Regions from separate parts of the Homo sapiens genome. Here region 1 is linked to region 2. Evidence: fine-mapped expression QTL. A gene starts in region 2. The other region holds a variant in brackets. All regions are shown on one strand. Distances are between the middles of the regions. Region 1 overlaps BRD1 (bromodomain containing 1). Region 2 holds the start of BRD1 (bromodomain containing 1).

The links. PIP is the estimated chance that this variant, and not a neighbour inherited with it, causes the effect.
Region 1: its variant is fine-mapped to the expression of BRD1 in whole blood (INTERVAL, PIP 0.96).

What each region holds. Positions count from the first base shown.
Region 1 is chr22:49,773,933-49,788,437 of GRCh38, forward strand. BRD1 (bromodomain containing 1) reads right to left here. Exons shown (of 13, transcript NM_001304808.3): 8 at 13,458-13,955; 9 at 3,746-3,881; 10 at 3,102-3,229; 11 at 2,118-2,227; 12 at 1,659-1,813; 13 at 1-484. The coding sequence ends at 301. Among named protein-coding and RNA genes, the nearest start is that of BRD1, 47 kb to the right of the region's middle. The variant A/T (reference allele first, on the strand shown) is at 9,309.
Region 2 is chr22:49,822,150-49,836,654 of GRCh38, forward strand. It overlaps BRD1 (bromodomain containing 1), which reads right to left and starts at 5,724. Exons shown (of 13, transcript NM_001304808.3): 1 at 5,348-5,724; 2 at 802-2,182. The coding sequence starts at 2,168. LOC105377205 (a long non-coding RNA gene) reads right to left here. Exons shown (of 5, transcript NR_188597.1): 5 at 10,300-11,538. RefSeq lists enhancers at 2,400-2,979, 4,189-4,388 and silencers at 4,889-5,058, 5,789-5,858.

The sequences.
Region 1 (14,505 bases), 48 kb before region 2:
AAATTATTAAACATTCAAAAGTCTTTAAGAAAAAGCTACATATCAAAGAAAGTGACGCCAGCAGCACGGCCTGGGGACGTGCGACAGACGCACTGGGCTGCCCGGACGTGCCCACCCCACTCACAGCGCCCAGACGGAGATGGGTTCCTAGAAAACTTGGAAATAAAACCTCCCCCCTCCCCGGGGAAAAAGAATTAAAGAGCTATAACTAAAAATCAGAATAAGTTAAGTTTTGAACAATATACAAACATGTACAGCTTATCAACACTATGGACAAGACCCGCGCTGGCGGCCGGGCCGTCAGTCAATGTCACTGAGGTCGCTGGTCGGCTCCCCGTGGACGCGGCTCAGGTGGTTCATGGCGCGGTCAAAAGCGATCCGCACGGCCTTCCGGATGCTGGAATTCCTCCCTTCCATCATCTTTAACTTGTCTATAGTTTCGTCAATACCAAGGGGAACCATTTTGGACTTAGGAAGCCACTGCCTTTTTAAAAGGAAAAACAAGCGGAAAATCATTGCTTGCACATGGTATTTCAGCAGGCTCCATGTAATCATCTAACAAATTCACTGCCCTCCGATAGAAAGGGGCCCTGCTCAGCACCACCAAGACAGCTGGGCCCCGTGCAGGGACAGGCCCGAGGCCAGGAGTGCACCCCTCCCTTCCCCTCCCCGACTTGGGGATACGGGGAGCTAAGTAAGGCATAAAAACCATCACCTCCTCCTCCACCTCCAAAACGTTTCCCAGTGCCTGCTTAGTGACAAGACATGCACACACCAAGCCCAGAGTCAGGGTGGGCCCTGGAGCAGAGGCCGGTGGTTGGGGAGACCCCATCAAAGGGGCCCTCGGATGGACAAGGTGTGGGCCTCGCTCAAGGCCTGACAAGAAGCAGTGGCCACGTGGCCAAAGAGGCAGAGGTCGAGGCAAGGAAGAGAAAGACGGTAGGGATGCCTGTGCTGCCAGTCCTGCTCCAGGCACACCATAGGCAGGTGGCCCCGAGCCCCTGCGCCAGGTCCCAAGTGCAGCCAGCTCCACGGGGAACCAGGAAGCACCTGCCCGGGCCACGTGCGCAGGGCACAGCCGGGGCCACAGCTCCTCCCAGAGGCATGTGCTGCCAGCGTGTCCTGCACAGAGGGATCTTGGGGTCTAAACCCTGGCACATGAGGGTCCCAGACGCTCTGGGGAAAAGCAGCTCAGGGCACAGGGGGAGCCTCCTGTGATGGGGTGGATGTCTGAGCAGAGCTGGATGATGCTGGGACAGAAGGCTCTAAGAACAGGGCCAGAGGCCAGGCCCGGGCAGGGGCCATGTCCTGCAGTACAGGGGTCCGGGAGCACAGCAGAGGGACCCCCAACACTGGAGCGGACACATGGGTAAGGAGTAGGGAAGAGACAGTCCAGACCAATGGGGCTCAGGCGAGAGGGAGAGGAAGCCATCGGGCAGAGACAGACCCGGTGCTCAGTGCCCGTCCCACAGTCCCGGCGAGGGGGCTGGGCAGTGCCCTTCTCCACCAGGCAAACAGCGGAGCACTCACCTCCGACTTTAGCTGTGCCAGGGCCCAGCAGACAAAGACGCTGCTCACCACAGGGACACTCAGGTCACCGAGCCCACGGCCCCCAACCACCCCAGCCGGTCCCCGGAGTCTAAGGCCTCTCAACTCACCAACTTCTCTTATTATCAAAAAAGAGAACGAGGAACAGCTTCTCATCAGACTTGGTCTGCATGTGCTCCCCAATCTTCAGCACGTCCAGGGGTGGGGCCGGGATGGTGACGCCGTTGTGGTGGCCAGGCACACGGGGCATCTTGGGGTCGATGATCTGCACGAGAAGGACCCGCTGAGGTCATTGTGAGGCTCACACCCATAAACAACCCCACCTGTCACTGGCACCCCCCCCCGCCTCCCCACCCCAGCTGTGTGAGCCTCCTCAGACCACCCCCACGCCCCCCTCGCCGAACCACCCCTGCCCCTTCCAGCTGTGTGAACCTCCTCTGACCAACCCCGCCCCCCCGCCAGCTGTGGAACCTCCTTGGACCACCGCCGTGAGCCTCCTCGGACCACCCCCGCCCCGCAGCTGTGTGAGCCTCCTCTGGACCCGCAGGCGCCACGAGAGCCGTACTCACCAGTGCCGGGTAGGAGGGGTAGCCGCTGCACTTGGCCCACACCACCTTCAGAGGCTCCAGCACCGAGGCGGCGGCATCAGTGGAGATCCACATGCTGCTCTGGCCGACTTCTGCGGAGAGGGGCGTCAGCAGGACACAGGCGTCAGCAGGACACGGGGCACGCCCCGCCCCCCCACAAAAGGTGCAGCAACAGGGTGGGTCCCCCGAGCACAGCCCAGCTCCCAGGCCTTTCTCAGCCACCCCGGCAGCACCACTGCCTCCCCTGTGGGGTCCAGGCCCTTGCATCCCCACTGTCCCTGCAGCCCACCTGGGGCCACCAGCCTCCCACGGACCCAGGGAAGCTCCTGCCCTCCAGGCTACAAGGCTCCAACTCCAGGTGCCCAGCACAGTCCCTTCTGAGCCCTCCTTGCCGCAAGGACGGGGCTCCCAGCATGCTCCTGCCTCATTTACACAACTGACACCCCAAATGGGAAACCAAAGTCCTGGCTCCCCCTCCGCCAGACCAGCTCCCTGCTGTCCCTCCCACCTGGGGGATCTCCGTCCTGATGCCCCCTCACAGCATGGCTGCCTTCCACAGTGAGGGCTGTGCGACCCCAAACCCTGGGGCCTCCCCCTCCCCCAGGGGCCTGAAGTTGAGGGCACCCACCCTGCAGTCAGTCCCCTGTGCAGCTGCAAATGACCACTGAACCTAAACAACCCCAGACAGCCTTGACAGTGCCTGGCAACCAGCAGCCACACAGAGCTGGACGTTCCACAGGGAAACGAAGGCAGGATGGAGGAGGCGCCACCTCCGCAGGCACCCCGGCAGGGCCACAGCCCAGAGCCCCTCGGTGTGTGATGAACCCTTCCCCGGGAGGTTGGCCAGGGTGGGGCTCCACACAGGGCACCATGCTCCCTGAGCCGGAGTCCAGTCCCCAGCAGTCGAGCCCTAAGACGCTAACCAGGAGGTGTGGAGAGCCATGGAGGCAGGTCCGGGCGACTCACCGGCTGCGATCCTGGCCGCCTTGGCGTAGTTCCCATTCTCGATGCAGGAGATCAGCTCACTGCGGTCCTCCAGCGTGTGCCGTCGCACAAGAGCCGGTTTGCCCCGCCCACATTTGGGCGCATTAAAGCTTCGGGAGGAAGAGCAGAGGGAGTCAGGCGCCCCGCCCCTGCCTTCAGCCTCACTCGGGCTTCGTCCCGTGAGCTGTCCGCCACCAAGCTGGCCACGCATCCTGCCTGACACCCCCGCGGCCAGACGGGCCTGTGGGTGCGCAGGTCTGGAGGGAGTGAACCTGTGGCAGGGGGGACTCAGGAGGCCAAAGTGGCCTTCACAGGGCAGACAGGCAGGGCTGTGCTCATTGCCAGATTCTGGGAGGTAAAGATCAAGTGTAAAACTTCATTGCAGATTCTAAAATTGTGTTCCTATTTCACGCAGTGTTTTTCCTACTTCTGCTTGAATTCTATAAAGCAGATTAATATGCAGCATGGGAAACTGTCCACAAGGGCAGAGCACACATGAATCCCAGGCCAGAATTTTTCAGAGAACACTAAGATGGGAGCTGGAATGTCCCGGCTTCCAGGACAGCCAGGCGGGGCGGGCGGTGCTGGGAGCTGCGTGGTGGGAAGCGCAGGGCCGCGGTGCCCACCTCGAGTCGCAGAGCGGGCTGTTGCTGGAGGAGATGCTGGACTCGGAGGCACAGCGTCGTCGGGGTGTGGCCTTCCTCCCCAGGCCGCCGCCCGGCTCCTGCTCGCTCCTCGCACCCCCAAAGCCGTTGGTGAGACCTGGAACACAGGCGGGCAGGCCCTGAGCTCAGCACAACCAGGGCACACTGAAGCATGACTCAACGACGTTACACTTGGAACACATCTTACAAAGCACGTTTCACAGACAGGTAAGACAGCATCTTCCTTTTCACTCCCAAGTTCCCGAGCATAGTCCTTACAGTAAGCAGACACCAAAGTTACTCGTTAAATGAAATCAACTTAACAAACTGCAGTCGGCTCCGATCGTAGTAGTTTGCTGAGCACCATGAAGATGCTCCTCTTGACAAGCCCGGGTCTTTAGACAGGCTCTGTGAAGGCAAAGAAAGGATGCCGTGAGCCTGCCATGGGGGCAGATGTGCAACCTGTGAGTGCAAACACGGGGGCGGCCTGTCCACGTGGGCACCGGCCGCGTTTGAACGGAAACTTCACCAGGCCGAAGGGGCCACCAAAGACACAAAAACATGTTCACAGGAGCAGAGCTCCAGGGAATAGGAAATCAGGTTTTAAAAAGAAAAAACCTTGGTTCAAAAGACAAGTGTTAACATGAAGTCAAAAATGCTGACGAAACACTTTAAAACACAAAATCCGGGGCCATCGCCGTGTCTGAGTGTGTCTGGCCTCACTCACCATGAAGCTGCAAGTACTGTACACAGCTAAACAAAACACCACTCACAATTCCATCATCTCAATGTTTAAAAAATAAGGCAAATCTCAGTATTTTCCCCCTAAAAATCCTGACTTTGTCAGTCAACGGGAAACAACACATCTGCCCAAGGCCCCCCGATGAGGTCCCCCATGGGAGTCACAACGGGGGGATGATGTTCCTGCTGGGGGCCCTCTGGGTGTCAGAGCTAAAGGGGTGTGTGATTTTTTTTTTCTTTTTTGAGGCGGAGTCTCACTCTGTCGCCCAGGCTGGAGTGCAGTGGCACGATCTTGGCTCACTGCAAGCTCCACCTCCCGGGTTCACGCCATTCTCCTGCCTCAGCCTCCCGAGTAGCTGGGACTACAGGCGCCCGCCACCATGCCTGGCTAATTTTTTGTATTTTTAGTAGAGACGGAGTTTCACCGTGTTAGCCAGGATGGTCTCAATCTCCTGACCTCGTGATCCGCCTGCCTCGGCCTCCCAAAGTGCTGGGATTACAGGCATGAGCCATGACACCCGGCCATGTGAATTTTTTTATCCAAAAAGAACCCCGTTTTCCTGCCTACCTACCTCATCCTTAAAAAATTTTTAAATCTATTTCCAAAGGAAATTATGTAAATTTGTAAATAGAGCATTTCTGTAGAATTTTTTTGGAAACGATGTCTCACTCTGTCACCAAGGATGGAGTGCAATGGACTCCATGGCTCACTGCAACCTTGACCTCCTGGGCTCAAGTGATCCTCCTGCCTCAGCCTCCTGAGTGGCTGGGAGGCATGTTTTGAAGGGAATGGCTGGACTGCGGGATTTTCCACCCGCTTCGTACGCTTCCCGTCTGTTCTCAATGAGCACGACCGACTTTTCAATACAGGGGCTGAATCAGCCTCCACCCGCTTCATACACTTGCTGTCTGTTCTCAATGAGCATGACTGACTGAAACAGAGGGGCTAAATCAAGCTCAGAAGGGAATGCACAGATTGGGCGGGTGCACTGCTGCCCTCCACAGACTCAAGTCAGACACCGGCTCCGTCTCTCCTGGACTGGAATGTACCGTGACCTCCAAGGGAAGCTCTGTGTTTCTCATTTTAACCTCGGTCATTTTAAGGCAGGAACTGTGGCCAGTTGGGGGTGTCATACTCATTTCTGGCAAGGGAACAAATAAATTTAAAAACCTACAGGAGAAGGCCTTGAGCCACACGCTGAGCTGCCCTGGGGCTCCACATGCTCCCCATACTCATCACAGAGTGGGCTCAGACCCTGCACACTCAGGCCCCGAAGATGTCTCAAGAGGGAATTAAAAGTCCCGTCCTGGCCCCCGAGAACCCCTCAGGAGCAGCGACTCCATCCCTACTCCAACCTGAGTGGGTGAAGGCAAGGGAAGCCCACCCAGCTCGCATCAGCAGTGGACGGACGGAGCCCAGCACCCCTGCCAGCATTCAGCCCACAGGCCCGGAGAGGGGTCTGCCAACGCGTGTGACCCGTCTCCAGAGAGCAGCCACGAGCCTGGCGACCCACACCCCACAGCCCGGCCCCCAGCACACTCCAGACCCCAGGTGCAGGGTGAGCCTGCTCCAGGCTGAACAGACGCAGCCCAGGGCCTGGGTGGGGAGGCTTTTAGTAGTTACTGGTTGGCCGAGCAACGGCCACTTGGGGGAAGACGATGACCAGTGCGGCCTTCACAAGACTGCCCAGAGGTGCCAGCCTGAGGGCCCTAGCACGAGATCACCCGCAGCTGTGCCAGCACCAACACAGCCAAGCCATGCACAGACCACTCAGCAGCCACGACGGCCCCGGCTCCGTGTGCATGGAGTGGGGCCAGGAAGGGGATTAAAACACAAGGCAAGTCCTTAATTCTCAGAAAGAGGAGAATGATAAAATGCCCCTCTTAATTTTCCTAAGCATTCAGTGAGTGCGCGTATGACGCAAGAACACACAGAGGTTCTGCGTGTCACCCATGAAAATGTGACAGCACCCGGGAAGACGTGGGCAGCACAGACAAACCCAGCCCAACCGAGACACCACCCAGCAGGAGGCCTGGCGGGGGTGGGACAGCTGCAAGGCTTGCTAACAGGCGGTCTGGGGGCTGCGGCAGTGCGGGGTCACCCAGGAAGCCAAGAAGCCAGACCAGGACACAGACACATCCCGGGAGGCTCTGCAGCCACCGCCTGGAGTCCCCAGAACCTCGGGGGAGCTGCAAGGTGGCCTGCGCTGCCCGGACCCTCCCAGCCTCCACCTGGACCACCAGAAAATAATCTAAGACAGCTATGGTTCTGAGATCTCTCAATCTCGGCCCTGCCAACTCCCGCCCTGGGAGGCTCTTCCAGCCAGCTGGGAGATGTCCACCATGACCCGCACCTCAGCACCCCTGCAAGGACCTCAGCCCAGAACATTCTGAAGCCCAGGCCAGCCTTGAGGTGGGGCCCAACGTGGGGAACCCAGGGCCTAAGGTCTGCAGAGATGGGTGCCCGGTCCATGAGGCATTTGCAAACAGCAGGCACTGAGGCCGAGCCCAAGCCTCTAAATCATGTAAATAGCAAGGGGCAACTTTCAGCAACTTTTTCAGCACGAGGTTTTTTTTTAACGCTGAAAGTAAAGCTGGTGACTGTGAGAAATACGTTAAAAGAGGCGGCGGCTGCCAGGAAAGAGCCGCTGCCCCATCAACACAGGAGCTGCACGGAATTCCCACAGCGGCCAGGGTCCACCCACCCTCAAGGGCCTTCCCAGTGACCTCCTAGGAGGCCAAAGACTGAACACAGAAATGTCCCTCTCTGCCCCCAAAGGAGATGGCGCAAAGGTGTCCCACAGCCCAGCCAAGCGCAGTCCCCGGAAGCCTGCCCGTCACCAGGTACGTCCACAGCACACCTGAAACTGTCCCGGGAGGTCCCCAAAGGGTCTTCTGAGAGACTGAAGGCCACAGCGGCTGAGACACCGCCCCTCCCCACAGGGAAGAGAAGCCCCAGGGCCCACCTGGGGAGGCGGAGGCCTGCAGGTCTGACTGATGGGCCGTAGTCTCCTCTGGTCTCAGGCTCCCAGCCCCCAACCCATGTGGACACCACAAATCCTCCAGGCCACAGGTGTAAGAACACCAGGCCCTGATCAGTGGCTGCCGAGACACCTGAGGGCACGGAGCCATGGGAACGCAACCCCACAACACGGGATACAAGCCCGCCCCTGCCCGCCCCTGCCGCTGGCACCCAAGCTGCCACCTCGGCTTCTCCGGCTCATGGGAAGCTTGGCCGTATGAAGCAGGTGGGCTGAGCCTGCACCCTGAAGACCAGAGCCCTGAGGGCCCCACGCAGTGACAAAGGAGAGCCCACTATCTCCTGTTTTCAGTTTCACTTTTACCATCGTTAAAAGAAGAGCAGTTTTGGTGCATTTTTCAACCTCTCAACAAAAACACACACGGAAGAAGATTCCAACAGCACCCTGCTCTTGCTGGGACCTGCTCCGTGACAATGCAGCCGGGGACGGTCAGAGACCGACCCAAGGCCCATGTTGCTGGGACCTGCTCCGTGACAATGCAGCCGGGACGGTCCGAGACAGACCCAAGGCCCAGGCCAGATGCCTGCACAAGACTTGCTCCGTGACAATGCAGCCGGGGACGGTCAGAGACAGACCCAAGGCCTATGTTGCTGGGACCCGCTCCGTGACAATGCAGCTGGGACGGTCAGAGACAGACCCAAGGCCCAGGCCAGACGCCTGCACGAGACCTGCTCTTGCTGGGACCTGCTCCGTGACAATGCAGCCGGGGACGGTCAGAGACAGACCCAAGGCCCATGTTGCTGGGACCCGCTCCGTGACAATGCAGCTGGGATGGTCAGAGACAGAACCAAGGCCCAGGCCAGACGCCTGCACGAGACCTGCTCTTGCTGGGACCTGCTCCGTGACAATGCAGCCGGGGATGGTCAGAAACAGACCCAAGGCCCATCTTGCTGGGACCCACTCCGCGACAATGCAGCTGGGATGGTCAGAGACAGACCCAAGGCCCAGGCCAGATGCCTGCACAAGACTTGCTCTGTGACAATGCCGCTGGGGACAGTCAGAGACAGACCCAAGGCCCATCTTGCTGGGACCTGCTCCATGACAATGCAGCTGGGACGGTCAGAGACAGACCCAAGGCCCATCGTGCTGGGACTCGCTCCGTGACAATGCAGCTGGGATGGTCAGAGACAGAACCAAGGCCCAGGCCAGACGCCTGCACGAGACCTGCTCTTGCTGGGACCCACTCCGCGACAATGCAGCTGGGATGGTCAGAGACAGACCCAAGGCCCAGGCCAGATGCCTGCACAAGACTTGCTCTGTGACAATGCCGCTGGGGACAGTCAGAGACAGACCCAAAGCCCATCTTGCTGGGACCTGCTCCATGACAATGCAGCTGGGACGGTCAGAGACAGACCCAAGGCCCATCGTGCTGGGACCCGCTCCGCGACAATGCAGCTGGGATGGTCAGAGACAGACCCAAGGCCCAGGCCAGATGCCTGCACAAGACTTGCTCTGTGACAATGCCGCTGGGGACAGTCAGAGACAGACCCAAAGCCCATCTTGCTGGGACCTGCTCCATGACAATGCAGCTGGGACGGTCAGAGACAGACCCAAGGCCCATCGTGCTGGGACTCGCTCCGTGACAATGCAGCTGGGATGGTCAGAGACAGAACCAAGGCCCAGGCCAGACGCCTGCACGAGACCTGCTCTTGCTGGGACCCAGCTCCATGACAATGCAGCTGGGATGGTCAGAGACAGACCCAAGGCCCAGGACAGACGCCTGCACAAGATCCCACGCACAGATGCCCCACCCCACGAGCAGG[A/T]CTTCTCAGTTGGCCGCAGGGGCACTCAGCGTGGTGACCAGCAAGAGACAAACAGCAGCACTGCTCAAGAATCCACTGGGCATTGTGGGGAAAAAACAGAGGAAGGGGAAGTAAGGGGAGAAGGAAATCAGGTAGAAAACCCAGAAATACAGAAGATGCTAGCGAGTGAGTGAGCACGCACTGTCCATGCCACATCCTCAGACAGTGCCGAGCCAAGTTCCTCCATACCCCATGGCACAGACACAGCACAACGCGCCTGGGCATGGCCGTCACACCCAAACCACCAGTCACTATGGGACGGCTCCGCACATGCTCAGGACAGCCTCAGAATGCTGTCCACTGTGTCGTCAGCTGCAGCAGGCTCCCAGTCGGTGCCGGGCTCTCCTCTGCGTCCTTCGTGACTGTCCAGAGGGAAGGCTGAGGTGCCACGACATCCCGCCAGCTCCAGGCGTGCACCGGGCGCCAGCACCATTCCCACTGCCGGGCTCTGACTTACAGAGGGGGTGGGCTGGGGTGGGGGAGAGCTCCTCCAGGGCTGCTGTTTGTGATTTTGTCTAGAGGATGTTTGAGCTGATGATTCCAATGTGATCCGCAAGAATTAAGTGAAAGGCAAGATGCAGTGATCTTTGTGCATTCCAAAACGGCCGCTTAGCAGAACTCCAGTCCAAGTTGAGGTAAGAGAAAATGATTAGGGTCCAAAGAGTGAACTACCCAGCACATTAGTGGTTAAAGTGAGAACCTGGAAAACAGTGAAAAAGCCATTTAGTCTGAATGAAAGGGCAGGACAGCTCAGCCTCCTCCCTGAACAGCCGAAGGACACTGAAGACACCCCCGCGCTCTCACGCCCCAGCACGTGCACATGGAGACTCGCAACAGGGGTCTCCGCAACGGCAGCGAGTGGACAAAGACATCCCCACACTCTCAAGCCCCAGCACATGCACACAGAGACTCGCAGCAGGGGTCTCCGCAACGGCGGTGAGTGGACAAAGACACCCCCGCGCTCTCACGCCCCAGCACGTGCACAGGGAGACTCGCGGCAGGGGTCTCCGCAACGGCGGCGAGTAGACAAAGACACCCCCACGCTCTCACACGCCCCAGCACGTGCACACAGAGACTCGCAGCAGGGGTCTCCGCAACGGCGGCGAGTGGAAGGCCGCTTCAGGTGACGGTTCACTGCTGGTGAGCGTGCAGTCACGGAGGAAGGAAGCCACGAGTCAGGGCCAGACTCTGGGGCTGGGCCATCGCAGGAACAGAAGCCTGGCGCACAGCACAGCCGGCCCGCGGGCGACACGGGCAGGAGGCCCACAGTGAGTGCGTCGCCTCAGGACCAGCGACCCTGTTCAGCCTAACTCAGAATTGTGCGTGTGCTGGAAAATGCCAGATAACTCCCTAAAGTTCAGAGCACACAGATGCATGTATGGAAAACATCAGAAGGTTCCGGATAATTCCTGTCCTAAGACTGCGAAGAACTGCAGCTCTGGGCAAGAAATCCCCCATGTGCAGAGCACCAGAAGGTTCCGGTGAAACCAAAGCGAGGGCGGATGGCGGGACTGGCACCATTCAGAGCACGCCCAGCCCTTCCCCGGGCGCCTCGGCCACAGCAGTGGAATGCCTCCCACTCCCGAGGGCCTGGTCTTAATGCTGCTGAGGCTCCCGGCTGCTCAGGAGAGAGCTCAGGAACTCACCGCACCTCCACGGAAATCCACTGTCACTCGGAAATGAGAGAGCAGAAATCTCCACTTCAGTCAGGATCAGAGGGCACCATGATTCTCAAAAGCCACCATGGGCCACGCTCACTGAAGGTCTGCAGTAAGACTGCTCTACACCACCGTCACCACGGGAAGCCCGCAAAACACTCCACTCCAATGTAAGACAGTGGCCCGGAGGGGACACGTGCTCTTCTACAAGGGACATCTGATGAACGAGCCTGAGAGGTTGCTGAGGACGTGGCCGCCAGCCGGCAAAACTGTCCACAGTGGGAGCCCACAGCTGGGGCAGGGCCCGGTCAGGTGGGGCCACCTGGTGGAAACCACCACGTGAGCATCCTGCTGAGTGTCGACGGGAGGCCGCCTCAAACCCCAGCCCCACGGCCGGCAGGGCCTCCACGCACGCAGCCCCATACCTCTGCCGCCGACAGACGTGAAACCCCGAGGAAGTGGAGCGTCAGCCGAACTCCAAGTTCTGCATGCAGAGGGGACGCCCACAATTACACTGACCCAACCTCTAGTACCCAGTGCACAGCACCCTGACCCGATTCATCACAGAATTTCCGGGGTGCTTGGAAAACCAGGTCAGAGTCTTTCACCAAAGGTGGCTAAGAAAGACCAACGTGGTTAAGACACATCCCCCAGTCCTGAGTCAAGGACATCTATTCTTATTGGTATCTTGTGAAACATTTCAATAGCTTCCTATTACTTAGAAAGCAAAAAAGCTTTTTCAAATTATTTTAAAATGCCAATTTAACATCAATCCATCAAAGTAAAAGGACATGGGTAGAAAATTTCTACACATTCAGTTACGTGCAAAATTTTCATACAAATCAAAATGAAATTTACCAGAAATTACTTTGGCAACAAGACGCATGACCTGCTTGCTGGCAAGGGTAGGAAGTGAGCCTCCTTCTGCACAAAGACCTTTGACAGTGCCTGGTCTCACTCCCCTCCCCGGACGCTTCAGGCCAGAGACCAGCAGAAGGAACAGGGACAAGATGTGAGGGAGTGGCCTGGGCAGGTCTTGCCCACCACAGCCTTCCATCTGCACCCGGCCTGGTGAGGCTCCATGACACAGGACTCACTTGCTGCCACTCTGGGAAATAAGCAACACCCACCCAGCCCCACCCTCTCTCACTGCTCAAGTGCACGAGGCACCACGGCACACCAGCACAGCCAGGAGAAAATGCGCATCTCCTTATCTAGGTATAACAGGCAGACAGGACAGACGGGAACCAAGCCTTGACTCGGGACAAAAACCAAAATGACAAACATGCTCCAGACACGCTTCCAGAAAAGAGTCGCTGGCAACCTGAGCCGGCACCTCCAGAAGCGCAGCCAGTACCGAAGAAGCAAACCGATGACAGCTGCTCCTCTTTAAAGGACAAACTCCTCAGCTTCCTCTGAGGGGCGGGGAGCAGAGGCTGCAGGAACACAGCGGCCTCCTCAAAGTGCTCCCAGCACAGCACACACACGGCAACACCCTCACCGAGGAATTCAACAGAGTTCAGTTACAAAAGCGCAGCAAGAGATGAGAAGCGCTTTCCAGTGCTATTTCAGCAGGTCCTAATACCTCATCACATATGTGGCTAAGAGGGCCACATAAAACAATGAGTAAATGTTGCTGAAATCAACTGCAAAGTACTGCATTTACCACAGGGGCAGGTCCTCTCAGAGGTCCAGGGAAGGGCCAGGCTCAACCCCAGGTCCTAGGTCTGTGGGGCTGCAAGGAGACCTGACTGAGGGTTGCAGAGTCGAGCTCCCACAAGTGCTGGGAGCGGCCAGTCACCAGCTTATCCAGATGTGCACAGCAAAGTCAAGATGACCAATTAAAACTACACCTGAATTCATTCTCAGTACTTTTTTAAAGATCAGAAGGGGCCAGGTGCAGCGGCTCACACATCTAATCCCAACACTTTGGGAGTCAGAGGCCAGGAGTTCAAGACCAGCCGGGACAACACAGCGAGACCCCCATCTCTACCAAAAATTTTCAAATTAGCTGGGAGTGGTGGTGTGCACCTGTAGTCCCAGCTACACAAGAGGCTGAGGCAGGAGGATCACCTGAGCCCAGGAGTTGGAGGCTGCAGTGAGCCACTCACTCCAGCCTGGGTGACAAAGCAAGACTCTCTTAAAAAAAAATCAGAGAGGAAGTATGTGGCAGAAGACAGGACCAAGGACCATCGACCCCTGGCCCAGGGCAGCCCAGCAAGGTTGCACAATCTCTCGTGGCAAACAGGCCCCCCACGAAGGCGCCGGCCTCAGACCCGCAACTCAAGGCTTTTCAAAGAAAACACTGCACTGTTGTCTTCTCTGGAAATTAAGAGAATGCTGCAAAAACAGAAGCTGGACACCCCCCCCCCCCCGTCACACCAATGATCCTGAAGGACGCTCCAGGCACTGGTCGGCAAGGGCGCCTCTCAGGGCCGCCCGCGGCATTTACCTGCGTCCAGGCGCTTTCCTGGGGACTCCTCCTCCACCTCGGAGTCTCCGCATGTGCTCCGCGACCTTTTCCTTGGCTGCAGAAGAGTCTCCAACCTCGGAAGGACTACAGACAAAAAGGTTTTGGTCCCTAGCTGAGGAGAAGTTGGCTGGGTTTCAGTGTTCTTGGCAGACTTTGGGGGGCTTACACTTTTCGATTTGCAGAAGAGAACAGAAGTGCGTCTGTTTACATCGCTTGCTGGCTCCGCCACCGCGGAGGCCGCCGCCGCCGGCACATCGCCACTACTGGCGCGGGTGGGCTCTGGAGGGCGTCCGCTTACCAGTGCGCTCTGAGTGCAAGCGCTATGTGATTCATTATCAAATGTGACTCTTTTGAAAAGTTTACTCTGCTCTGGGTTGAGTTCTACTGGTTTGAGGGTTGGTGGTTCTGAATTAGTCTCCGAGTTTGAAGGAAGAGGTAATGCATCTGATGGTTCAAGTTTAGGGGGAGATTTATCTCCTGAAAAAATTATAAATAAAGTGATTTTTGAAAACTGAAGATTATAAAATCTATTATAAAACTTACTATAAATGTGAAGTCCACCAAAATACTAATTCAGTTAAGGAAACAAGGCATCGCATGTACTGTCTGCTCGGCAGTGTGGGCCCCGTGGGCTCGGGCCACACTGTGTGTGCTTCCCTAACGCCAAAGGCTGCGGCCCTGGGTGCAGTGCCCAGGCACACAGTTACTCTCTGAAAAAAACTGTGAAAGATTATTTCACATGCGCCAATATTAAACACGTCACTCGAGTTCATGACAGTTTCTGCAATGAATAATTCACTTACCTTGAGGAAGAAAAGGTATCTCACATAACTAAAGGGGCCTTAAACGGGCATTCCCACAGAGCTCTACTGGGCCACGAAGTTAGCAAATAAAAGGAAGGCAACATTAAATCTGATCTCTGGTCAAGGTCTTAAGTCAAAAATGCAAAAACAAACAAACAAACAAAAAAAACAGGGAGTGGTGAGTGGCTGTGGATGATTTTCAAGAAAGGCAGGGAAAAAAGCCC
Region 2 (14,505 bases):
GCATGGTGGCTCACGCCTATAGTCCTAGCACTTTGGGATGCAGAGGCAGGCAGACTGCCTGAGCTCAGGAGTTCCAGACCACCCTGGGCAACATGGTGAAACCCCGCCTCTACTAAAAATACAAAATTAGCTGGGCATGGGAGCACACGCCTGTAGTCCCAGCTACTCAGGAGGCTGAGACACAAGAATTGCTGGAACCTGGCAGCAGAGGTTGCAGAGAGCTGAAATCGTGCCACTACACTCCAGCCTGGGCAACAGAGCAAAACCCTATTTAAAAAAAAAAAAGGCTGAGCAAGTGCTGTAATTCCAGCACTTTGGGAAGCCAAGGCGGGCAGATCACTTGAGGTCAGGCGTTTGAGACCAGCCTAGCCAACATGGTGAAACCCCGTCTCTACTTAAAAAATACAAAAATTTGTCGGGCATGGTGGCGCACGCCTGCAGTCCCAGCTACTCAGGAGTCTGAGGCAGGAGAATTGCTTGAACCCAGGAGGCGGGGGTTGCAGTGAGCTGAGATTGCGCCACTATACTCCAGCCTGGGCGACAGAGTAAAACTCCGTCTCCAAAAAAAAAAACATAGAAAACTACAGATTATTCCAAGCCTACAGACTAAAATCTTTTACAACATCTATTCCCCAAAAAGACGTGGTAAACAAGCAGAACCACACTTCAGGGGAATATTAGGAAGCTGCGCCAACTAGAAACGCAATGACCACACAGCACGGGCCCTGCAGGCTGTGCCCACGTCCTCCCAGGGTCCCACACTGCAGGCTCCTTGTGGACTCAATGCTTGGACACGCTTACCTCTGCGGGGGAATATAAGGAGCGCACACGGTCGGCAGGACCGCGCAGGGCTCAGCCAGAGCTTTCTTAGCCTTTTTTGCCTTCTTCCTGACCTTGGATGTGGACCTGACCGTTTTAACCGAGCTCTCTTTTCGACAGACGCCATTTTTCATTTCGACATCCCCGTAAATATTCAGAGGCCTCCGGGTGCAGCCTGGAGGCGTGTGGACATCACAGTAAGCGGTCTTTCTGACGGAGAAGGTGGTGCCACCGCCAGTCAGTTCCTTCACGGGCTCCATTTTCATGTACAGGCCAGCCTTCTGGGCACACGTCACATGGAATGCTGTGTAGCAGTTTGCTTTGTGGCACTGGATGCAGGCACCCACGCCCTTCTGCTTACAGAGGTAGCATGTCAGTTTCCACCGGGCTGGAGGGATGTTCCTCACCCCATCGATGGGCTCGATGAACACCGTGTTGGCAAAGCCGACCTCTGGGATCCACAGGGCACACACCACGTGACCCCAGCGGTCGTCATCTGTCTTTTTGAAGGCACCACCCTTGTTGGGGCACAGCACACAGTCGGCGGGCCGGGCCCGCGACTGCAGGCAGTGGCGGCAGAGCCACTGGCCCTCGGGGATGTAGGGCACCCCGTAGCACTCCTGGTGCACGGCCAGGTTGCACATGTCGCAGAAGAGGATCACGTTGCTGTTCTGACACTCCCCGTCCATGCAGATGCAGCACACGGCGTCCTCGTCGATCAGAGACTGCTGCTCGCCCTGCTTCTGGTTCTCGCAGTGCGACTCCTTCTCGAAGCGGTCCATCAGGAACTCAAACATGCTCTGCGACACGGCGGGGACGCAGTCGCCCTTGCGCTTCTCATTGACGATCTCCAGCCAGGCATAGTCCTCCTCGTCCATGTCATACTCCACCTCGTTGTCCAGTTCCTCGGCCGACTTCTCGATGAACTTGTAGTACACAGGAGGCCTCCTGGGGGCGGACGGAGGGCTGTACTCCACGATGCGCACCTTGGGCTCCGGGAGGGCACTGGCCGAGGCCGGCGTGCCGTGGGCGCTGGGGAGGGCCTCGTTTTTCTTTTTGACTCTGTTGTTTTTGTGACGCTTAGTTCTTAAGCAGACAGGAGGCCGCTCGCTGTTTTCCTTGTTGCTGTTGCACTCACTCATCTCTTGAGCAGTGAGGTCATCTTCCAATATGATCTCCAGGGGATCAAAAATACTGATCCTGTGCAAGCGCCCTTCAATTTCTATCTCTACCATCCTTTGAGCTTGAGCGTAGGTCAGCGTTTCTCGCGTAGGGGAGTGTTTAACACTGCATGGGGAAGAAGGATGCCTCGCTGCAGAGCCTCGATGACATCGTCCTTTCCTCCTCATTTGGTAATGATTACCTAAAATGAAGGCAAAAGTAAAGGTAATTCTACGCAGGGTGACCAAAGACTCGAGAAAACCACAAAAGCATGCTTGGACAGATCTAGCTCAGCAGCTCAAAGCCCAATCAAAGCAAAACTCACAGCTAACCTCTTTCCAAGGTGTCCAAAACCACACATCCAGGCCTGAGCGAGTCCCCAGGACCAGGGAGGGAGCAGCAGTAACAGGCAGAGAGGCAGCCTGAGGAGCCCTCCTGAGCACCTGCGTCCCTACCACCACACACCAGTCCCCTCTCAGACCACACCAACAGGCTGCGGAGACCACAGCAACGCTCCCCAAGGAGGAGGGGTCCGGCCCAGAGCCCACAGTTGCAGGACTTTCCCAGCATGCAGGCGGTCCCCCAGGAAGTCCACATACAGGGCTGGACCCCACCAGGCACAGAGGCTATGCCCACCAGACAGGCATGCTCAGTGGCTACCTGGTCCTATCGGATGCTCCCCCTAAACCACTCTTCCCCTCCCCACTACTCCCAGGAGAGCACTCCCATGAGCCCAGAGTCACCACAGTCCTTGCAGCATTCCTGCTGGGGCCAGGGGTAGGAGACAGATCACAGCCTGTCCATCCTCTATAGACAGGCCCTCCACACGCACAACACGGCACAGGGGACCAACAGGGGAGCCCTGTACTGGTCTGAGGGGACAGTCTTGGCCCCTGGGAGGCCCCAACCCCGCTTCTGCAGAGCCTTGGCAGTGACCACCATGGAAACCACCACAGGCTGAGCCAACCTGCCCCTTCCCCTCAGGGGCACTCCTCAAGCCCCACTGAGACCATGGTGCTGGCCACGTCCTCCTCCTTCCACGTCCTCCTCCTTTCTGAGAGAATCCAGACACATGCATGACGCCAAAGGGAATCTCTGTTCTCCCCGGCACACGTGAAGGCAGACGCTCCACTCAGGCTCCACAGCGAGGGGTGACCCCCAGGAACCCCTCGCTGCTTGCAGAGACCCTCACCAGGAGGGTCGCCAGCGCTGGCTCAGGTGCCTGAAGACTTGGCCACAGAGGCTTAGGAGAATCTGCTTTTCCAGAGGTAGGCAAAACCAGTGAGCTGCCTCCCATACCTCCAGCTCCTCGTGGCAGAGGCCTCTGCTGTCCCAACACCACGGACTGCGTCTATTCCTAGCTGTCCCCAGGGTGCCTGGTGTGTGGACACCTCCTGTGAAGACCACCGCCTGCTGGGCAGTGCCTCCCTCCAAAGCGCCACACTTCACTGACAGGAAGCAAAATGATTTTTCAGTGACTGACTCGCAAAACAAATATTCTCAGCTGAAGCCCAAGGCATACTCTGCATCTAGCCCTGCCACGTCAGGGACGCCTGGCCTCGGGGCCCAGGGGGATCAGGGGCACCCACAGCAGCCTTACCCTGATCTATTGGGCCTGAGAAAAAGCCCTCAGGGAGCAGGCTTCCCTCTGTGAGTCCCGAAAGGAAATCCCAGCAGACTTCAAGAGCACTTCTTAAGACAGACCCTCCAGACACTGGGTATCTTTCTCTGTATCAGACAGAAATCCTCATTGTATGTTGAAACTAGATTGCAATTACCTACAGAAAGGAATAGGAGAGAAAATGTGGTCGGCCAAACCTCAGACCCCCTGCATCTCCAGGGCCTCCAGGTACCCACTCAACCCTGGATTCCTGGGGAGCTGTCAGCACAGCCACCCCCCAGCCGGCCCCGTGAGCCCTGCAGAGGTGACACCACAGCCTGCAGAGAGCGACCCTAGTGCACCCGGGACGCCGACACGCGTCATTACTGAGGTGGGGCAGAAGCAACAGTTGGTTACTCACCAGATCAGAAACGAACCTGTCATTTTCCCCTCGACAGCAAAGTCCTGAGTCGCCCTAACGACAAGCAGCCCCTGGAAACCCACTCTCTCCCAGGGAGCCGTGAAGCTCTTCATCGCAACACTTTCTACAAGGGGAGAACTGAACCGAAGGCTTCACGGCCACAGCAGCTCCATACCCTCAACATGCAACTGGGACCCGGGGAAAGTAGGCCCTCAGCAGGGCAGGGCGACCCACGACCTCCTCTGCTTCACCGCTTCCCCCCTGGGCCGGTTCTGTCCCTGGCCCTTCCACTGGGACAAGCATTTCCACTGGGAGGGATCCGCGGGGGCACACACGTAGCTTCTCAAGGAATAATTCCCTTAAGTACATCGAAGAGCCCTGCGGGCCACAGGCGGGGAAGGCTGCCCACAAGACGGCCGCTTCCATCTTCCCACCGCCCGCCCAGGGAGAAGCCGGCCACGCGCCGGGCCTCTCGGTCAAGGCCACAGGGGCCGCGGCCGCTGAGCTGTGCGAAGTTGTGTGCAGCACACAGCACTCGGGACGGCGCTGGGCCGGCCAAACAAAAACATCCGCCGATTCCACTAACTACACAACCACCTGGCGACAGACCCTCAAAAACAGACACGGGCGGCCGCGCTTTCTGGGGAGACGGGGCCGCACCCCGCGGGGCAGGGGGTCCCGCTGCTACGGATTCTCAGAACTCCCGCGTCCGCTCACAAGAGCCGCGTTTCCCGTGAACTGCGCCTCAATCGTGTCACTCGTTTTAAAAGGCCCGGGGAAGCCTCGCGTTCGTCGCGAGGCGTCTCCCTGCAAACGCCCGGGGAGGCCGCGGTGCCGGTTCCCAAGCCCGGCCGCCGCAGGCCGCGCGGCTCCTGGGCGATCTCGGGGCGCGTCCCTGCTCACAGGGAGTTCCCGTCTTGGCAGAGCTCGGCGGGCCTGTCTGTTACATAAGGGGCGGCCCGGCCGGCTCGGCGGCTGCCCGAGGCCCGACCCGACTCGAGCGCGGACTCCGGGCAGGCGCCCGCGGCCCAGGCCGCCGAGACCCACAGCCCGACTCGGCCTCCCTCGACTCCCCGGCCTGACCTACCCGGTCTCCCCGCCCGGCCTCCCCGTCTTCCCGCCCGTCTCCCCGGCCGCCCGGCCCGACCTCCCCGGTCTCCCCGCCCGGCCTCCCCGGCATCCCGGGCTCCCGGCCCGCAGACAATGCGGAGCCGCCGCCGCCGCCGCCGCCGCCAAACATGGCGTCGGCACCACAACCCCGAGAGGCCGGGCCGAGGCGGCGGCGGCGGCCGGGCGGCCCGCGAGGCGGCGGGGAGGCCTCCCCGGCCAGGCCCCCGCCCACTCACCTTCGGGGCGCCGCGGCCGCGGGAGCCCGGCAAGCGGGCGGGCGCGGGGGCCGGCGCGGCCGAGGCGGTGCTAATGGCGCCCGCGGCTCCTCCGCCAACGGCCGCGCAGGCCGGGCCCCGCCGCCGCTCCTGGGCGCGGGCCCCTCTCGGCCGCGGCGGCTCCGGGCCCGGCAGCGGCGGCCGCGGACTCTCGGGCAGCGGCTCGCGCGGCGCGGGCTCGGGCTCGGGGCCCAGCTGGAGGCCCGGCTCGGGGGGCCCGGCCGGCGGGCGCGGGCGCGGGCGCGGGAGCGGGCGGCGGGCGGCGGGCGCGGGACGCGGGGCTGGCTCGGACTCCAGGGCCGGGTCGCTCGCTCGCTCCCCAGCGAAGCAAACAATGCGGCGAGCGCTCCGCCCGGCGCGCTGCGTGCGAGACGCGCCCCGCCCGCCGCCGCCATGACGCGCGGACTCCGCTGCCTCGGCCGCGCGCGGGGGAGGGGGCGCCGCGAGGAGCGGGGGCCAAAGGGGGCCCTGAGGCGGCGGGGACCGGGCTGGGAGTGGGGGGTCGGGAGGATGGAGAGTGGGGGCCCTTGAGTTAGGGAGGACCGGGCCAGAAGGTCCCTGAGGGGGTCAGGAGGATGGAGAATGAGGGGCCCTGAGGCAGGGGGACGTAGGCCTAGGAGTGGGGGGCCCCGAGGCAGGTGGGGAGCAGCCGGGAGTCGGGGGCTTTGAAGCAGGGGGGTACCGGCTGGGAGTGGGGGTCCCTGAGGCAGAAGGGCATTGGCCCAGGAGTGGGGTCGCTGAGGCAGGAGATGGCCCAGGAGTGGGCGGCTCTGAGGCAGGGGCTACCACCGGCCTGGAGTGGGGGGCCCACAGGCGGGGGGACGGGCCGGGAGTGGGGGTACCTGAGGCAGAAGGACATTGGCCCGGGAGTGGGGGGCCCCGAGGCAGGATGGGGGAGCAGCCGCCAGTCGGGGGCCCTGACGGGGGAACGGCCAGGAGTGGGGGTCCCTGAGGCGGGGGGGACCAGCTGAGAGTGGGAGTCCCTGAGGCAGAAGGCCATTGGCCCAGGAATGGGGGGCCCTGAGGCAGGGGGCGATTGGCCCACGAGTTGGTGGGGGCCTGAGGCAGGGGGCGATTGGCCCACGAGTGGGGGGAGGCCTGAGGCAGGGGGCGATTGGCCCATGAGTGGGGGGCCCTGAGGCAGGAGGCTATTGGTCCGGGAGTGGAGGTCCCTAAGAGGACAGAGGGGGCCCTGCGGGGGCACTGGGTGGGAGTGGAAAGGGCACTGGCCGGGACACGCGACTAGGTAGAGGTGGGTGGTGCAGCCGGGCTGGGGAGCCTCCCCTAGTGAGTGTCAGGCCCGGTGTGCAAGTAGTCCTGCCAGTGTGAGGGCCCTGCCGAGGCCGGCGTGAAGCAGATGCCCTTTAAGGTTGCAAGAAAAGGCCCCTGCGGGTGGGAGTTGAGAGGCCTGAGTCTCTGCCTTCACTTTGGCCTTTTGTGTAAACTCTAAAATTCAGTGGGGTCATAACAATTTTCACTCCAAGATTAAATCCCAAATGTTTTAAGGTGAGGCAGGAGCTCCTTGGTTTCCTTGAGAATTTGTGATCAGGACGATGGTGCTGTGGAATCCCTGGGTTCCAGCAGCACAGCCTGTGGCATCCAGGCAGGCCCCTCAGGAAGAGCAGCTGTCCACCCTGGGACAGACCGTCCCCACGGGGGCAGCCGAGCGGCCCCACTGCTCGGGGCACTGCACCAAACACCTTATTGGGAGTGGGGTGGCCTTGTTCGCCCAAGTGTCCCTGATAGGGGCCAGGCCCCACAGGCCTTTTCCTGGCCAGTCCTCATGCCCATGGCACCCAGTGTGTGGGTTGTGACGTGACGACTCAAGGGCAGGTAGGACCCCAGCCAAGGCCCCAGTGGTCAGTCCTGATCTAGGACTCCCTGCAGACACACCCTTGAGCTTAGGGGGTACAGGCCACTGGGGCCCTGACCTCTTCTGCACCAGACCCAGGAGCTTCGTGTCACCTCCATTCTACAGATGTCTGTTTACCTGTGGCCAAACAAGCAAGCTGAGCCCGAACGCTTCTCTCCTCCACCTCAGGGAAGCCAGATGGAAACCAAGCTGGAGGTTCTCCACAACACAGAGCAAAAGTAAGACACAGTCTCATGAAAGAGAAGATGAAAAGACACGAAACCCTTCACAGAAGAGGAGACGGGGACAGTGGCCTCTCAGACAATGCAGGTGATGCTCAGAGGAGTGAAGAACAAAGCCTCGAACGTAGGCATGTCACAGGGATACTCAGGAAGGCCTTCGGAGAGGATCTTCTTTAGAATTCAGACTCATCCTACAGAGGAGGGGTTGCCAAAATACTAAGAGAATTGAACCGTAACTCATACACAGTGAAACTAGCGTTCCAGTGAGACAGCAAAATAAAGGTGTCTTCACCGCCGGTTAACATCCACATTTACCACACACGCAGTCTGTAAAAGTACTAGAAGAAATACCTTAACAAAGTGAAAAGTGGACCCAAGAGTAAGACGTGGATGCCAGCAAGTAAATCAGTCTGGTCCGTTAAAAGAAAATCAACCTGAGAGAAATCCCGGATGAACTCAACATGACACATGGTAAGGCGGGGCGCAGAAGGAAGTGAAAGTGCACGAAAGCTCTTGTATTGTTTGGTTCGAGGATTTTAGAATCGATAGAAAAAAAGGTTAAAAATTTTAGCTGGGCATGGTGGCTCACACCTGTAATCCCAGCACTTTGGGAGGCCGAGGCGGGCAGACTACCTGAGGTCGGGAGTTCAAGACCAGCCTGATCAACATGGAGAAACCCCATCTCTACTAAAAATACAAAAAAAAAAAAATTAGCCGGGCGTGGCGGCGCATGCCTGTAATCCCACTACTTGGGAGGCTGAGGCAGGAGAATTGGTTGAAACTGGGAGGTGGAGGTTACAGTGAGCTGAGATGGTGCCATTGCACTCCAGCCTGGGCAACAAGAGCAAAACTCCATCTCAAAAAAACAAAAAAAAAAAGTTTTAACTATCAGAAAGTTTCCACAAGAATGGTGGAAAAAGAATTTACCACTTTCAGAACAGCTGAGGAAAAAGCGAAATGAAAAACGACAGCAGCAACAACAAAAAAAAAACAGGAATGAGTAAAAGATAAAATCATGATAAATACAGAACATAATATGAGTTGGCAGAACTAAGTTCAAACATTTGAGTAATCAGAGGAATGTGATTGGATTAAATGCATCTATTAAAAGACAACCTCTCTGAATGGAATATAAATATGGTGAAATATTCTTACAAGAAATTCACCTGAAAAATAACAGATGAAAAATAAAACGATGGGGCCAGGCACAGTGGCTCATGCCTGTAATCCCAACACTTTGGGAGACCGAGGCAGGTGCATCACCTGAGGTCAGGAGTTCAAGACCTGACCAACATAGTGAAACCCCATCTCTACTAAAAATAGAAAAATTAGCCAGGCATGGGGGCACGTGCCTGTAATCCCAGCTACTCAGGAGGCTGAGGCAGGAGAATCACTTGAACCCAGGAGGCTGAGGTTGCAGTGAGGCAAGATTGCCCCACTGCACTCCAGCCTGAGTGACAGAGCAAGACTCCATTTCGTAAATGAAAGGATGGAAATTATCATATGTTTGTTCCTCAAAAGGCACCATAAAGAGACTGAAGAATGAAAAACTAAAAGATATGTACACCTTGCAGATGATTAGTATTTAGAATATATAGAGAACCCCTTCAGATCCATTAGAAAGAGACAAACAAGCCAACAAAATGATGCACAAAACCCAAATCAACAAAGAAACCCATGTCATAATCAGGCTTCTTGCAGAGAACATGGAAAGGCCAATCATCTTACTAGTAAATTTGGAAATGCAAACAAAATACACACCAAATAGGCACCAGCGTTCATATGTGGCAATACTCAGCGATGGCAAGATGGCAGAGCAATACCCTGCTGGCCAGAATGTCGAGTGGGACAATTATTTGGTAAATATCTTGGTCATAAGGCGTTACCCAGTGAAAGTGGACATGTTTATCAGTTACCTCTTGCTGCAAAACAAACCACCCCCAAAACTTTGTAGCTCAAAACAGCAGTCATTCCTTTTGTTCACACATCTGCTATTTGGGCAGGATTCAGCAGGTACAACTAGACTACTTCCTGCATCCTTATCTGGGGCACCTCCACTAGGGGCTGGAGGAGCCACTTCCAAGATGGTGCACTCACGTGGCTGGGACCTTGATCCAGGCTCTGGGCTGAGGGCCTTGGGAACATCCTCATGGAATAGTAGCCATGCTGCAGGAGCAAGGGTCTCAAGAGAAGCAGGTGGGACCTGTATCACTTTTCACATCCTAGCTTCTGAAGTCACACGCATCACTTCTGCCATAGGGACAAGCCTGTCCAGATTCAAGAGTTAGGGAGAATACAGACCCCACCTCTTGGGACATGTGTTATCATCACATTTTAAGAGAAGCATGCTGTATGGGAGAAGTTGTTGTGGCCACTTTGAGAAGATGCAAGCTCCCCCAGTGTGCATACCCATTCCCGGCTGTAGGGTTAAGTCAATTTGTATTCCTAGGTGCATTCCGTGCCTGGGTGTGTGCCTAAGAAACCTGTTCATCAGGGCCGGGCGCCGTGGCTCACGCCTGTAATCCCAGCAGTTTGGGAGGCTGAGGCAGGCAGATCATGAGGTCAGGAGATTGAGACCATCCTGGCTAACACGGTGAAACCCCATCTCTACTAAAAATACAAAAAATTAGCCAGGAGGCTGAGGCAGGAGAATGGTGTGAACCCAGGAGGCAGAGTTTGCAGTGAGCAGAGATTGCGCCACTGCACTCCAGCCTGGGCAACAGAGCAAGACTCCATCTAAAAAAAAAAAAAAAAAAAGAAAAGAAAAAAAGAAACTTGTTCATCAGGAAGCATGTGCATGAATGTTCAGAGCAACACTGTTTTTGGTGTTTTTTTTTTTTTATTTTAACGCTGTTTTTAATAGCAAATACTGGGAGAAATCTTAAATATCAAAGGACGGTAAAATGGACAAAGTGAGGTGTATCCACGCAATGGAATAGCACACAGCAACAGAAATGAATGAATTCCACCACCAACACGGCCAAATCTCAAACACATAATTTTAAATGGAAGAAAGAAATCTCAAAAGATTACAGAATATGATTCCATTTACACTCAGCAGACAGAGCTAGGAAATAAGTATGTACAAACACACACACACACACACACACACACACACACACACACACACACACACCCATATCTTTTCTGATACCTCTTAGCAAACCTTGAGTTCATACTGATACCTGTACCTCCAGTTACAATCTAGCATGGAGTTGATTCTACCCTCCTCTGTTTCTACATAACTATCTATGCCTTCACTTAGTAGCTCAGTCCCCCGCTACATAACCATCTCTAGGCTATACAGGACAGAAACTTGGCCCCAGACACAACCACTGCCCCCCATTTTGCACCAGCCAAAAATGCGGTTCTGGGGGCATCACTGCTCTCCAGAATGGTTATATCTGCAGGCTGAAAGCACAGCCCAAGAAAAGGCAAGGAGGAGGATGCTCATGTTGTTTCTGATATTCTGTTTCTGGCAGGAATAAGACAAAACCCTTCTTCTTTGATCTATCTCACCTTTAATTTATTTAATTTTTATTTTTACCCGGTATCTGCAACAATCTACTTTAGGAGACTATCCTTTCACAAACATTAAAACGTTCTTTAAATGGTGTTTTTCTCACTTCAGAATTCAGGAAAAATAGTTTTACTGACATTTACTTTTAATAAAAACGTAGTAATTTGCATTGTTGCAGTAGAAATTTGTCCTCCTTGTCACCAGGATATAATCAGACAAATTAATAGTGGAGCCCAGGCCTTACATGGGTGTCATATTTGAGAATAACTTTCCTGTGCTTCCACAACACGCCCACCTTTAAGGAACAAGGGTTGTGGCTTGTGTGCTGAACCAATGCCCACACAACCCTCAGACCCATACTGGCCGGGCACCTGTACTCTGGCACACAAAGCCTCAGCCTCACAAGTAGTAAGAAGGATACTTCCTGGCAGGCCAAGAGCCATGGCAGACACTGGAACCTTCTGGAAGATAGAAACTTGCACACACACAGGTCCCGCGGGCACACCTGAGGGAGGTGGATTTGGTTCGGCTTCCTGGCCTAGGAACAGAAGAGCAAATAAGAGAAATTAAAAAACAAAAAATCTCAGGTGTGATGTAGGCTCAGTCCTACATTCCTTATGATGACACGTCCAGACAGAAGTTGATTTTCCGGCTTGGTCATTGCATAACGCCATCTGGTTTACATGTGTCACCTAACAAGGACACTCGTGCGTGGTAATTACCACTTCTTGCAGCACCTGTGTAGATGAATTAGGTCAGAATGCAAGACTAGCTTTCTGTGGTCAAGAATAACCTTCGGAGATTATTTATCATCCCAAGAGGGAGCTAATAAAAATGTCCCAGATTAAGGATTAGACACCCCAAAATGAGTGTGTCCATTCAGTGGCAGGCTATGTTCCTGAGCAAGCCTGCCAGGCAGATTTTCGGATCCTCTGGAGTGTGCGCCTGCTTAACTTGCTATATACTATTGATTACGATATTTTACAACTCAGCAAGGGTAGACTTTAATTTGTTGAAGATAGATGGCTAAGTAAAATTATTCCTCTCTGACAGCAATGCAAATAAATTTTGCCCAGTAGTGAGTGATAGAAATTATTTCTGTCCAGTGGAAAAGATTACAGTAAAAAAGGTTGCAGTTTGACTGGGCGCAGTGGCTCACGCCTGTAATCCCAGCACTTTGGGAGGCCAAGGTGGGAGGATCACCTGAGGTCAGGAGTTCGAGACCAGCCTGGCCAACATGGTGAACCCTTGTCTCTACTAAAAATACAAAAATCAGCCGGGCGTGGTGGTGGGCGCCTGTAATCCCAGCTACTCAGGAGGCTGAGGCAGGAGAATTGCTTGAACCTGGGAGGCGGAGGTTGCAGTGAGCTGAGATCAAGCTATTGCACTCCAGCCCGGGCGACAGAACAAGACTCCATCTCAAAAAAAAAAGAAAAGAAAAAAAGAAAAGGTTGCGGTTTATGGCCCTGTAGAACATTAACCAGTTTTTTTAAAAATCTAAATAAGCAGAATTACTCAAACTTTTTTAAGTCACTACAAATACTTCCTTCTCTCCAATCTTTTGAACCAGCCTCACCATCATGCTGGTTTCCTCATTAATGATTAAAATAAATCTTTGACACGTCTTCACTTTAGAGTTGTATGAGTCATGTTTTTAACTTTTTTTTTTTTTAAGACGGAGTCTCGCTCTGTCACCCAGGCTGGAGTGCAGTGGCGCGATCTCAGCTCACAGCAAACTCCACCTCCCAGGTTCATGCCATTCTCCTGCCTCAGCCTCCCAAGTAGCTGGGACTACAGGCACCCACCACCACGCCCGGCTAATTTTTTTTTTTTTTTTTGTATTTTTAGTAGAGAAGGGGTTTCACCATGTTAGCCAGGATGGTCTCGATCTCCTGACCTCGTGATCCGCCCACCTCGGCCTGCCAAAGTGCTGGGATTACACGCGTGAGCCACCGCGCCTGGCCCTGTTTCTAACTTTTTAAAAAGTATGCTTTGACAGCTCCAACATCTAGCTGCCTTCTCAGCCTCTCCTCCAGGATGTCCTGTAGGCATCTCGAACTCAACGTATCTGGCACTCAGCTTTTGGTCTTCATCCCCAAACTTCTCTGCTGTCTCCTTCCTCGGTTATGGGTTGAATTGTGTCCCCCCTGCAAAAGGTATGGTGAAGTCCTAAGCACAGTACCTGGGAATATGAGCTAATTTGGAAATAGGGTCTTTGCAGATATAAAGTTAGGATGAGGCCAGGTGCAGTGGCTCACGCCTGTAATCCCAGCACTTTGGGAGGCTGAGGCGGGCGGATCACCTGAGGTCAGGAGTTTGAGACCAGCCTGACCAACGTGGTGAAACCCCGACTCTACTAAAAATACAAAAATTAGCTGGGCATGGTGGCGCATGCCTGTAGTCCTAGCTACTCACAAGGCTGAGGCAGGGGTATCACTTGAACCTGGGAGGCGGAGGTTGCAATGAGCAGAGATTGCGCCACTGCACTCCAGCCTGGGCAATAGAGTAAGACTCCATCTCAAAAAATAAATAAATAAATAAGAATAAATAATAGGCCGGGTGTAGTGGCAAAAAATAAATAAATAAATAAGAATAAATAATAGGCCGGGTGTAGTGGCTCAAGCCTGTAATCCCAGCACTTTGGGAGGCCAAGGCAGGCAGATCACGAGGTCAGCAGATGGAGACCATCCTGGCTAACACGGTGAAAACCTGTCTGTACTAAAAATACACAAATATAGCCAGGCGTGGTGATGGGTGCCTGTAGTCCCAGATACTTGGGAGGCTTAGGCAGGAGAATGGCGTGAACCCAGGAGGTGGAGCTTGCAGTGAGCTGAGATCGTGCCACTGCACTCCAGCCTGGGCGACAGAGCAAGACTCCATCTCAAAAAAAAAAACAACAAAAAAGACATAAGAAAAAAAAGAATAAATAATAATAATAATAATAATTAAGTTAGGATGAGGTCATTGAGTTGGGCCCTAATCTAATGACTGGTATCCCTTTCTAAATTACACAATCTGCTAACCTTCTCTGTATCATTCCAATTTTAGTGTATGTGCTGCTGAAGCAAGCACCTGGTATTCTTATAAGAAGAGAAATTGGGACACAGACACACAGAGCAAAGACAGCTATGTGACAATGGAGACAGAGCAGAGTAATGTGGCCACAAGCCAAGGAATGCAAAGTATTGACGGCCACCAGAAGCCGAAAGAGGCAGGAAAGACCCCTCTTTATGGGTTTCAGAGGGAACACAGTCCTGCTGATGCCTGGACTTCGGGCTTCCGACCTCCAGAGCTGTGGGAGAGTGAGTTGCTGCCATTCTCAGCCCCCCAGGCTGTGGCGCTTTGTCATAGCAGCCATAGGACATGAATCCACTTTCTCAGCTAAGGCAACTCCGGGCTTCCTAGGTGAGAGGCACTCCTGCACTGCTCATGTCTGACCCGCTGGCAAAGCCTGTCGGCTCCCCTTTCAAAATAAGTCCAGAGCCAGCCCTGTGTCACCGCCTCC